2 separate regions of the Homo sapiens genome follow, and region 1 is reported to be linked to region 2. The links are microRNA targets in miRTarBase. Many come from high-throughput screens and were not tested one by one. Region 2 holds a microRNA gene; the other region holds the end of a gene's coding sequence.
Evidence for each region. Region 2 holds the annotated microRNA hsa-miR-369-5p (AGAUCGACCGUGUUAUAUUCGC, at 2,928-2,949, opposite strand). A microRNA usually pairs through its seed, bases 2 to 8, with sites in the 3' UTR of a target mRNA and lowers its output. Matches are read on the target gene's strand: a 7mer-m8 pairs with bases 2 to 8, a 7mer-A1 pairs with bases 2 to 7 and ends in A, and an 8mer does both.

Region 1: miRTarBase lists RBM39 as a target of hsa-miR-369-5p. The part of its 3' UTR that is shown has no 7-base or 8-base seed match.

What each region holds. Positions count from the first base shown.
Region 1 is chr20:35,700,219-35,705,218 of GRCh38, reverse strand. RBM39 (RNA binding motif protein 39) reads left to right here. Exons shown (of 17, transcript NM_184234.3): 16 at 473-551; 17 at 638-3,872. The coding sequence ends at 738. It overlaps ROMO1 (reactive oxygen species modulator 1), which reads right to left. Exons shown (of 3, transcript NM_080748.3): 3 at 4,239-4,421. The coding sequence ends at 4,313. Among named protein-coding and RNA genes, the nearest start is that of ROMO1, 3.3 kb to the right of the region's middle. RefSeq lists an enhancer at 4,981-5,000.
Region 2 is chr14:101,063,035-101,068,554 of GRCh38, reverse strand. MIR369 (microRNA 369) reads right to left here and starts at 2,957; the gene lies at 2,888-2,957. MIR541 (microRNA 541) reads right to left here and starts at 4,060; the gene lies at 3,977-4,060. MIR409 (microRNA 409) reads right to left here and starts at 3,255; the gene lies at 3,177-3,255. It overlaps MIR412 (microRNA 412), which reads right to left and starts at 3,108; the gene lies at 3,018-3,108. It also overlaps MIR410 and MIR656.

The DNA.
Region 1 (5,000 bases), not on the chromosome of region 2:
TCATCTTTTTTTATAAATGATGTTAGGTTGTTCGTCTCTACCTTAATCTTCGCACATTATGTGGTGCATGTTATGGTTAACCGTCTTCCATTATAGTTTTTGTGTGTGTGTGCCTGAAAGTAGCTTTAATATAGTGGCTAAATAAACCCTCCAAAATAAAAGAAAATCAGTAACAATTTGATCAGGGTATGAGAGGATTTCTAGTAATGCTCAAAGCTTGCCATGAAATCTTGGCATCTTGATTCATTCTTAGGCTGCATACAAATCGTAGAGAAAAGATAAAACGGCAAATTTGAGAGTAGAAGTCATTTTTTAATAAAATTCTAGTATACCTATTAGCCAGTGGAACCATTATGGTAAACCAGTTTGTGGTTATAGAGCACTAAGTTTCTACAGGCAACTTGAATAAACATAACTTGGGTCCATTTTGCATACAGCAACATCTTTACCTTTTTTTTCATTTTTTCTGTAGGGCAATGTGTATGTGAAGTGCCCATCAATTGCTGCAGCTATTGCTGCTGTCAATGCATTGCATGGCAGGTGGTTTGCTGGTGAGTTTGAATTTATTTTTTGACTGATTGTTATTAAGGCTCTATAATGAAGATGCTAAACCCAACATGTCTGTTTCTTTTAATAGGTAAAATGATAACAGCAGCATATGTACCTCTTCCAACTTACCACAACCTGTTTCCTGATTCTATGACAGCAACACAGCTACTGGTTCCAAGTAGACGATGAAGGAAGATATAGTCCCTTATGTATATAGCTTTTTTTCTTTCTTGAGAATTCATCTTGAGTTATCTTTTATTTAGATAAAAATAAAGAGGCAAGGATCTACTGTCATTTGTATGCAATTTCCTGTTACCTTGAAAAAATAAAAATGTTAACAGGAATGCAGTGTGCTCATTCTCCCTAAATAGTAAATCCCACTGTATACAAAACTGTTCTCTTGTTCTGCCTTTTAAAATGTTCATGTAGAAAATTAATGAACTATAGGAATAGCTCTAGGAGAACAAATGTGCTTTCTGTAAAAAGGCAGACCAGGGATGTAATGTTTTTAATGTTTCAGAAGCCTAACTTTTTACACAGTGGTTACATTTCACATTTCACTAATGTTGATATTTGGCTGATGGTTGAGCAGTTTCTGAAATACACATTTAGTGTATGGAAATACAAGACAGCTAAAGGGCTGTTTGGTTAGCATCTCATCTTGCATTCTGATCAATTGGCAAGAAAGGGAGATTTCAAAATTATATTTCTTGATGGTATCTTTTCAATTAATGTATCTGTAAAAGTTTCTTTGTAAATACTATGTGTTCTGGTGTGTCTTAAAATTCCAAACAAAATGATCCCTGCATTTCCTGAAGATGTTTAAACGTGAGAGTCTGGTAGGCAAAGCAGTCTGAGAAAGAAATAGGAAATGCAGAAATAGGTTTTGTCTGGTTGCATATAATCTTTGCTCTTTTTAAGCTCTGTGAGCTCTGAAATATATTTTTGGGTTACTTCAGTGTGTTTGACAAGACAGCTTGATATTTCTATCAAACAAATGACTTTCATATTGCAACAATCTTTGTAAGAACCACTCAAATAAAAGTCTCTTAAAAAGGCCACAGGAGATCTTCATTTTTCAAATGTTTTAAAGTTACAGAAATTTGAGAACAGAATTAGCTTCTTTTAGTCTCAATTCAGTACTTGCCTCTTGGGAAAATGTTCCGAGTCTGCGGAAACTTGCCCTCACGTTGTCCCCCATGAATTCCTTTATTCTATTAGAGTCTAGCCCTGTGTATTTTAGAAGAATGTATCAAAACTGAGGGGTTTACCAAAAAGAAAAGGAAACAGCCTGGCCTTAAAACCTGGGCATTCTTGGTCTCCTGCATTGTCTGGGCATATTTATGAAGAAATTTTCACCATTTACAATACATACTTAACAAAATGGCTTAACTTCAAACTGGTTTCCAAAATTGATTTATATATTAATATATTAAATAAGGTGCATATATTACTGTATTAAGGGGTTTTGAGCTTTCATACTAGTTGGGAAGCAAGCTGTCACCATTTATACTCAATTCTCTTCAACTGTTTATCTCTTGGTAAATCTTTTGAGTAGGAAATGCTGCTCCTAGCTTATCTTCAAATACTGAGTTCCTTACCTCATTTGTTCAACTTTTTTTTTTGTTAGCATTGAAGCACAAGTTTTACAGGCTTATTCAGAATTTCATATCAGTCGTTTTGTTTGACATTTATCCCAATAATTGTTCTAGTGATTTAATTTGTATGGAAACTCCCAAGGTTCAATTTCTTTTTCTTTTTGAGATGGAGTCTTGCTCTTTGGCCCAGGCTGGAGTGCAGTGATGTGATCTCAGCTCCATCTCCCAGGTTCAAGCAATTCTCCCACCTCAGTCTCCTGAAGAGCTGGGACAGGTGCGCACCACCGTGCCCAGCTAATTTTTGTATTTTTAGCAGAGACGGTGTTAGCCCGGCTGGTCTCACACTGACCTCAAGTGATCTGTCCGCCTTGGCCTCCCAAAGTGCCGGGATTACAGGCATGAGCCACCGCGCCCAGCCTCATTGAAAATTTACTTTTCAATACCAGACTGCAGAGTTCTTTGGGGCAGAGACACTCTGTCAGTGTGCTCTTTTTCCAAAGTATCTCCTGCTATCAGTTTTTCCCCTTGAACCAAGTCTTCCTAACAAATTTGTTGTGTCATTGCTTTCTAGGGAACTGGACCAGCAAATGTGGCCTTTAGTGGTTAATCTCATCTGTGCCAAAATTTAGTTGCTACCAGAGTGAAATTTGGTGTGTAAATAATGTTCAGAGGAAATGTGGTTGGAGTGTAGTAACTTGAATAGTGTCGTGCATAGAAAACAGCTCATTCTGAGTGAAACTGTTTATGTCCAATCAGTTCCTGAGTCAGCATCCCACTGGTTCGAAAATCTGTAACTAATCTGGTAATGTCCTTAATTTCCTCCTGCCTGTCAGTGTTCCAAAGTGTTCATCTAGTTTTCTTTTATCTTTATAATAATTACTACCATCTTTGAAAGTTCTGTTTAAGAAATGCTTAATGGGCAATGCGGGTTAGTAACTCCAGGGTCTGCGTGGCCTGGGCAGGTGAGATGGACAACTGCCTCATTACAGAAGCTTTTTATCATCAAACTAGTAAGTTTTGTGGAGGGCAAGCTATATAGATTGTTGATGAGTGGTTAGAAAATCATCTGGAATTTAGCCAGTTGAGAAGCTACAGAAGTTTCTATTTTTTTTTACAGTGGATGAACTGTTTTGCTTTTTCTGATAAAGCCACTAGGTATATCTAAATAACAACCTCGGGCTGGACGTGGTGCCTTATGCCTGTATATGTGAACACTGGGAGGCGGAGGCGGGTGGATCATGAGGTCAAGAGTTTGAGACCAGCCTGGCCAACACAGTGAAACCCCGTCTCTACTAAGAATACAAATTTTTTTTGTTTTGAGACAGAGTCTCGCTCTGTCGCCCAGGCTGGAGTGCAATGGCTCGATCTCAGCTCACTGCAACCTCCACCTTCTGGGTTCAAGCGATTCTCCTGCCTCAGCCTCCCGAGTAGCTGGGAATACAGGCGCGTGTCAACACACCCGGCTTAAGTTTTTGTATTTTTAGTAGAGACGGGGTGTCACCGTGTTACCCAAGATGGTCTCCATCTCCTGACCTTGTGATCCACCAGCCTTTGCCTCCCAAAGTGCTGGGATTACAGGCATAAGCCACCGCGCCCAGCCTAACAATACAAAATTTAGCTAGGCATGGTGGCACGTGCCTGTTATCACAGCTACTCGGGAGGCTGAGGCAGGAGAAACGCTTGAACACAGGAGGCAGAAGTTGCGGTAAGCCGAGATCGTGCCACTGCACTCCAACCTGGGCGACCAAGGAAACAACCAACCTCAGGATGAACATTGCTTTGGAAATAATGCAATGTGTGACCTTGAGGAAATTTCGGCTTATAAATCCATTTTTTGAAGTAGTTTTTCTCCTTTAAAATGGTGACCGTAGTAACAAGCACAGAGTTGTACTGAGTAATTAGTTGAATAGTATCTATGGAAAATACTAGACACTCCCAAGTTTTCCAATTTTGGATTAAGAGAGGCAGGCCTTGTGAAAGAGATACTAACCCTAGTCATTACGTTAGTCCATCTCTTTAGTGCAGAAGATCCTTGGCAAAGCTGGATAATAGGCTGAGAGAAGAATATTCCTTTAAGAGAGGGACACTGACTACTCAAAGACTTTCTTTTATTAGTACATGGGCTGGGATTGATGGGAAGGGACAGATGTAGTTGGCAACCATGGTTAGCATCGGATGCCCATCCCAATGGCCATGAATGTGCCAAAGGTGCCGCCACTCTGCATCATGGTTTTCCCAATGCCGCCCATCAGCTCTCGACCCCGCATTCCGATCCTGAGGAGGAAACCAAGATGGAGCTATTTGGTAACAAAAATATCAGAAAGAGTATTAACTGCTCCTTTCCAATTTTTTGCTAACACTAGTCTAGCAACCCCTACATCTGATTTTCCACTTACTGGATATTATATCTTACTACCTGGGGTGGGTAATGAGAAGGAAAAAGATCCATCTGGGTCTCCAGGGTATTTTTCTGGTGGATGTCGTATTAACTGCCTTCAGTTTGTGGGAGGCAGCAGATGCAGTGTAAAATACATAGAGAAACCAGCTTTTTTGACTGGTGTTGCCTGCAGTTTAAGACCCAATAAAGACATCTGTCTTTTAGTTTCTTGGTGTTAATGATTTTGGAGTAAGGTGGGGGTTCAAGAGTCAGCTCTACAATTTACACATAGTGTCAAGTGTAAAATGGGCATCTCAACATTATTTACAGGATTTTGAAAACTACAGTATTTAGCACAGTGCTTAACATAGAGTAAGTGCTCTGTAAATGATAATTTACAATCTAGGGATATGGCAATAACAGCCTCTAAATGTGAAAATGACCTTTAGAGTGTAAAGTTTAACTGCTTTATCTCT
Region 2 (5,520 bases):
ATGGAGTTCCCCAGAGCATTTGGCTCTCAGCGCTGGGGCGTTTGCTGGAGGGGCGGGGGCGCGATCAGTCGGCATCTGCAGGGGAACACAGGGCCTGTCACTTCCTCTGGGGCTTTGGTGCCCCCACCCCCCGACAAGTGGAAGAGAGAACCCAGACCCAACTGACTCGTGCCTCCTGCAGCTAATCTCAGCCTCATCCTGGAAGGGCAGAAAAAGCTAGAAAACCAAACAGCTTTGAACAAATGGGAAGAATTTCTAAAAATCAATTAACATATTCATGTACTCCATCACCACATCTTATTGACTGCCTGCTTTGTGCCCAGCACCTGCCTGGGAATTCATCTGATCCGGTCCCTGCCTTTGGGGACTCCATTAGTCAATCAACAAACACTCACTGTTCTGCTACTGAACACAGCAGGGGATGAGAGAGAGAGAGAGAGAGAGAGAGAGAGAGAGAGAGAGAGAGAAATTTCTGCCAATGAGAAATCTCACAGTCTAGGGCACAAAGAAGGTAGACATTAACATTAGGCAATTTCAGAGAACTGTAAGCTAGGAAGAAAACAGTAACGGGGCAACTGGTAGAATGTGATAGGGAAGAGGCAAGGGGAGCTGCTTTTATAGGGTTATCAGGGATGACCTTGCTGAACAAGAGCCATTCCATCCCCTTGGGAATTGTGAACCCCTGGGAAAGGAAAATGCAAAGGATGTGGGCCTTTAAGGAAGGAAGGGCCAGAGCCTGGACAGGAGGCAGCCGAGGGCAGAGCAGGGCGGCCCAGGACCCAGCTCCGGAAGGAGGGGCATGTGCAAGGCCAGAATGAAGGATGAAAACACGTGGGGGATAGGCTGTGGCTCCAAAAGAAGAGGGGGGCTGCCACTCTGAGGGCCTGGGGGGTCCTCGGATCATTTTGGTACCAAGCCCAAGGGAAGGGGCCTGCAGAGGTGCCCTGGGCAGCGGAGTTAAACAGCTGGACTCTGCACTTGGAAATGCTCTCCCTGGCAGAGGGAGGGGCACTGGAGGGAGACCCAAGTGCCACAGGCTGGAGGGACCTAGCCTGTGGGGCGGCCTCTCCAGCAGGGCTGTGGCCCAGGGGCTGGGGAAGAGGGGTGCTGAGGGAGAGTGGGAGCAGGCAGCCCAGAGGGATGGTGCCAGGGATCCCCACTCCCATGCTAGGCATGGAGAGGAGCGGTCCCGAGGAGGAGGACAAGGGGGAGGGCAGGCACAGGCTGTGACTTCCAAGGCAGCGACGTCTCAACTAGGGGATGACGGGAGCCCAGCTCAGGAAGATCTCCCGAGCCCAGGAGCTCACTGATCAACAATGAGTGATAAAGGACAGCCTTAGCTCATTCTTTGGGGTCACTCCTGAGGTGCTCCTTGCCTTCAGCCCTGGACCCTGGGCATGGGCAGCATGTTCTGGAGTCACTAAGTCTCCAGGTCAGCTGCAAACAGGCCTCTGGTCATCTTCCTGTAGTCTGGGCAGGCCAGGGGTGCAAATATGACATAAGCATCGGGTAGCTGAGAGCCAGCCCAGCCTGGGGGATGTGCCAACCGGAAGCAAGGGCATGGCGGGTGCTCCCGCTGACACTGGAATTGGGGATGCCATTCTGTCACACTTCCAAAGCCCCCCAGAACAGAGTGGAGCTGGAAAATTAACAGGCCAAGTGACACAGGTCCTACACAAAGTCCACAGGGTCAACCAGCGCAGAGCCAGCTGCTGCCTGGAGTTGACAGCAAAGAGGAAGGCATCCAAGGTGGGATTCGATATCGGAAAGAGGTTGACTGTATAATATTCATCATATAGAAAGTGAACACCTCACAGGCAACCTATTTCAGGTACCACTGAGCAGCACTGACTCCAGGGAGGAGGCTTCTTCCACAGGGAAGGGCCCTGCCACCCACCCGCCTCCAGGATGGAGGCCAGCACAGGGCTGCAGGTGGAAGTCAAGCGCGTGCTCGGCCACCAGCCATGCCTCTGGGGGCCCACAGGGCGCGCAACCGGACCTCCCCGACATCAGCAGGTGCAGGAATCATGCAGGTGGGATCTGATACTGAAGAGAGGCCGCTCGTGTCTTGTGTGTCATGATTTCTGTGAATGCAACACAGGCCACCTCTCCTCAGGCACCACAAGGAGCAGCACACGCACACGGCCACCCAAGGCACCAGCTCCCACCCAGGGTCTCACAGCACTGAGATGAGCAGAAGGCAGCCCAGGTGCAGGGAATGCATGCAGCCGCCCCCAACATCCTGGCGAGGGGTGGGTGGCCTTCCAGCAGGATGCCTTCCAGCGGGACTAGCTCCCCCGTGTCCTCTGCCTCGATGACACTGGCCATGAAAAACAGACTGAGCCCCGTCACCATTGCTCATCAGCTTCATGACCGCCCCCCACCACAGTGCACAACCCTAGCATCTTCCCCAAAGTCCACATGGCCCCCCGAAAGCTCTCCCAAAATGATTCAATGGCGGGGGTCAGGGGAAAGGATGACAAATGTCACACCAGCCCATGCATTCACGTACCCTGGAAAGTCCCGCCTCAGGCGTGGCGCCCGCACACCACCGGGCGGTAGCGGTACTGAAAACAGGCCATCTGTGTTATATTCGTCATTAATAAAAGCGAACTCATCACAGACAACCTCTTCTCAGGTACCCAGAGTGCCATCGGCTCAAGAACGTGGCTGCCGCGTCCCGTGGTGCCAGCGCTGCCCCCGGGAAGCAGTCCTGAGGACGGATGGGACATCAAAGGTGAGAAGACACAGAGACAGGAAAGAGACCCCTGCCCGGCCCACTCTCGGTGACCAGGCCCCACTGAGGCAGCGACTCCAAAGCACCCGTCCTGCTCCTACCCTCAAAAGGGCTTCATCTCCAACGGGTCCTCCAAGGTGAGATTTGATACTGAGAAAAGATCAACCATGTATTATTCGAAGTCAATAAAGCGAATATAACACGGTCGATCTCCCTTCAAGTACCAGGAAAGGCGCTGAGCTGAAGCGCGATCGGCTCCCCGGCCCGCAGGCCCCACAGGCTGCAGCGGATACGGACGGCTAGTGGACCAGGTGAAGTACATTAGAAACAATTACTTTCCAACTGGTCGACCATCCATCCCCGTACCCCAGAATGGTGCTGATGCCGGCGTCCTTCCCCGAGGTGCCCCAGCCTCCAAGACGGCCTCCCTGGTGGAATTTGATACCGAAAAGGGGTTCACCGAGCAACATTCGTCGTCCAGATGCAAAGTTGCTCGGGTAACCTCTCCCCGAGTACCATGGAGAGGCTCAGATGCTCGGACTAAGGTGAATGCTTGCAGGCGGCTGTGCTTGCAGAAGACCCTCCCCCAAGGGCAGCACAAGGTCTGGGCATTCAGAGCCCAGAGCCTCACACTCTCCAAGGACGTTCCCAATCACCAAGTCCAACGATTCCAACCCCTTCCAGAATGAATCTAGAGACTCTTCCCAGAAGTTGAGTGCAAGACCCAGGTAGGATCTTATACTGAAAAGACGGCAACCTTCCTTGGGCACCTTGCTAAAGATGAAAATGAAACCCTGCTCGCACCCGCTTTTCATTCCCAGACCCTGAGAGGGGGTGACCCTGTAGGGACCCCTGCACAAGCACAGAGCCTCCCTCCCAGCAGAGGATTCCTTTGGCGGGAGCTCAACGGGGCACAACGCTGACCCCAGACCTGCGGTCTCACCAGCACCATCTCCAGCCCACAGAGGCATCACCCCAGGATCCCTCAAAGAGTAACTTCACAGTTATCAACAGCTGGCTGACCATCTGATTAGCCTCATAAAGCAAGTGAGACATTCAAAATAAGGGACTGGGGGGATAAATGCAGCAGAAGAAAGCAGGTGAGTCACAGATGTCTTCTCTTCACAAGGGTCAGGGCAGCCCTGACCTCAGAACCCAACCTTCCCCAGACTCAGAGAACACCCAGAAGGTGCCTCCTGGAGCGGGCAGCCAGCAAGCATCGGGCCAGACGATGGATGCCACAAGCAGAGTCCAGATTCTGTGCCCACCACCCATTCTGTGAACTTTGGAGTGGGACCGACAGCAGAATCCTTTCCCTGACGTTGGCATGAGCTCAGAGAGCCCTCTGCGCCTTGCTACAAGTGGAGCAAGAGGCCAGCCATGCGAGGCCTGCTGTAAAGAAAGAAAAGATGTCACAGACGACTTCCCTTCAGGAGCCATGGGCACTGACCTGCATCAGAGCCTCCTTCCTGGGGCAGGCATCACCTCCCAAGGTGGTCCCGGAACGCACCGGAGTCAGCAGGAGTGGAACAGATGACATGCACCGTGGGTACAATCGGGCCTGTCCCATGGGCGGCCCTCAGGCACCTGCCCTGGAGAGGGCTCCGGCTGCAGGCCGCCTCCTGAGGGTGCTGTTGCTTCTGGAAATTCTCCAGGTAGGGTTTGATCTGAAAAGAAAGCCATGTGCAATGCTGGTCACCAACAAAGCAGGCCAGCAAACAACGAGCTCTTTCCACAGCCCCAGCAAGGTTTTTGACCTTGGAAACATCAACTCCAGAATGACTTTCAGCCTCTATGACCAAATGACATTCGGCACCAACGAAGGGCACGTCCTTGGGGCCAGCATGGAACCATGTAAGGTATCAACAGCAGAGTCTGAGGAAGGACTGAACCCCAGAATGTTCCTGGATGCCTGTGTGTTCATCAATAGCCTTGGAAGTGTGAAAGGAAAGTTATCTCGGGCCCCTAAAATCACTAAGGAAAACTCAAGCTGGAAGCTGCTCAGGATAAACCTGCCTCTCATTCCATTCAAAGTCATCCCTCTGCTCACTGAGACAGATGCGTATCTGATTTGCCTCCTTTGGAAAGGCTCATGAGAAACGCGAAAGAATGTAATCATTTGTGTATCACCTGTCTGTGACCTGGAAGCTCCCTCCTTCCTGCCTTCGCTTCAAGTTGTCCCACCTTTGCAGACAAAACCAATGTACTTCTTACATGTGCTGAATGATGTCTCATGTCTCCCTAAAATGTATAAAGCCAAGCTGTGCCTTGACCACAGTACTTCCTGAAGCTGTGTTACGGGTGTATCCTCAACCTTGTCAAAATAAACTTTCTAAATTAACTAAGAGCTGTCTCAGATTTTCTGAGTTCACAGAAGCAACTGTCCTGAAAGACCAGACCCCACTGACCGTAGAACTTCTGCTTCCCTCCGGAGTCAGCGTCTCACCCAGAACCCTCCGTGGGGATGGAGGGAGACCAGGTGATGCCTGTCACTTACGTATGAATGCTCTGGGGACAACATGCACCCAGATCCCCGGGAGGACGCCTTACCAGTGTGTCACGCCTGAAGTCAGCACACCTTTCCGGGAAGCTCTCGGGAAGGTTTGGGGCAGCAAGAAAAGATCAACTGCATAAAGGGGGAGACTGTATCCCATTTTTTGACCCTAGGTTCCTACTGACCCCACCAACTCCACTGTAAACACGCACAAATGTAACCACCTTCACAAGAATTGTACCAACACTGATATTCATAGAAACGTGTTTTTCAGAGCCAATGCCATTAT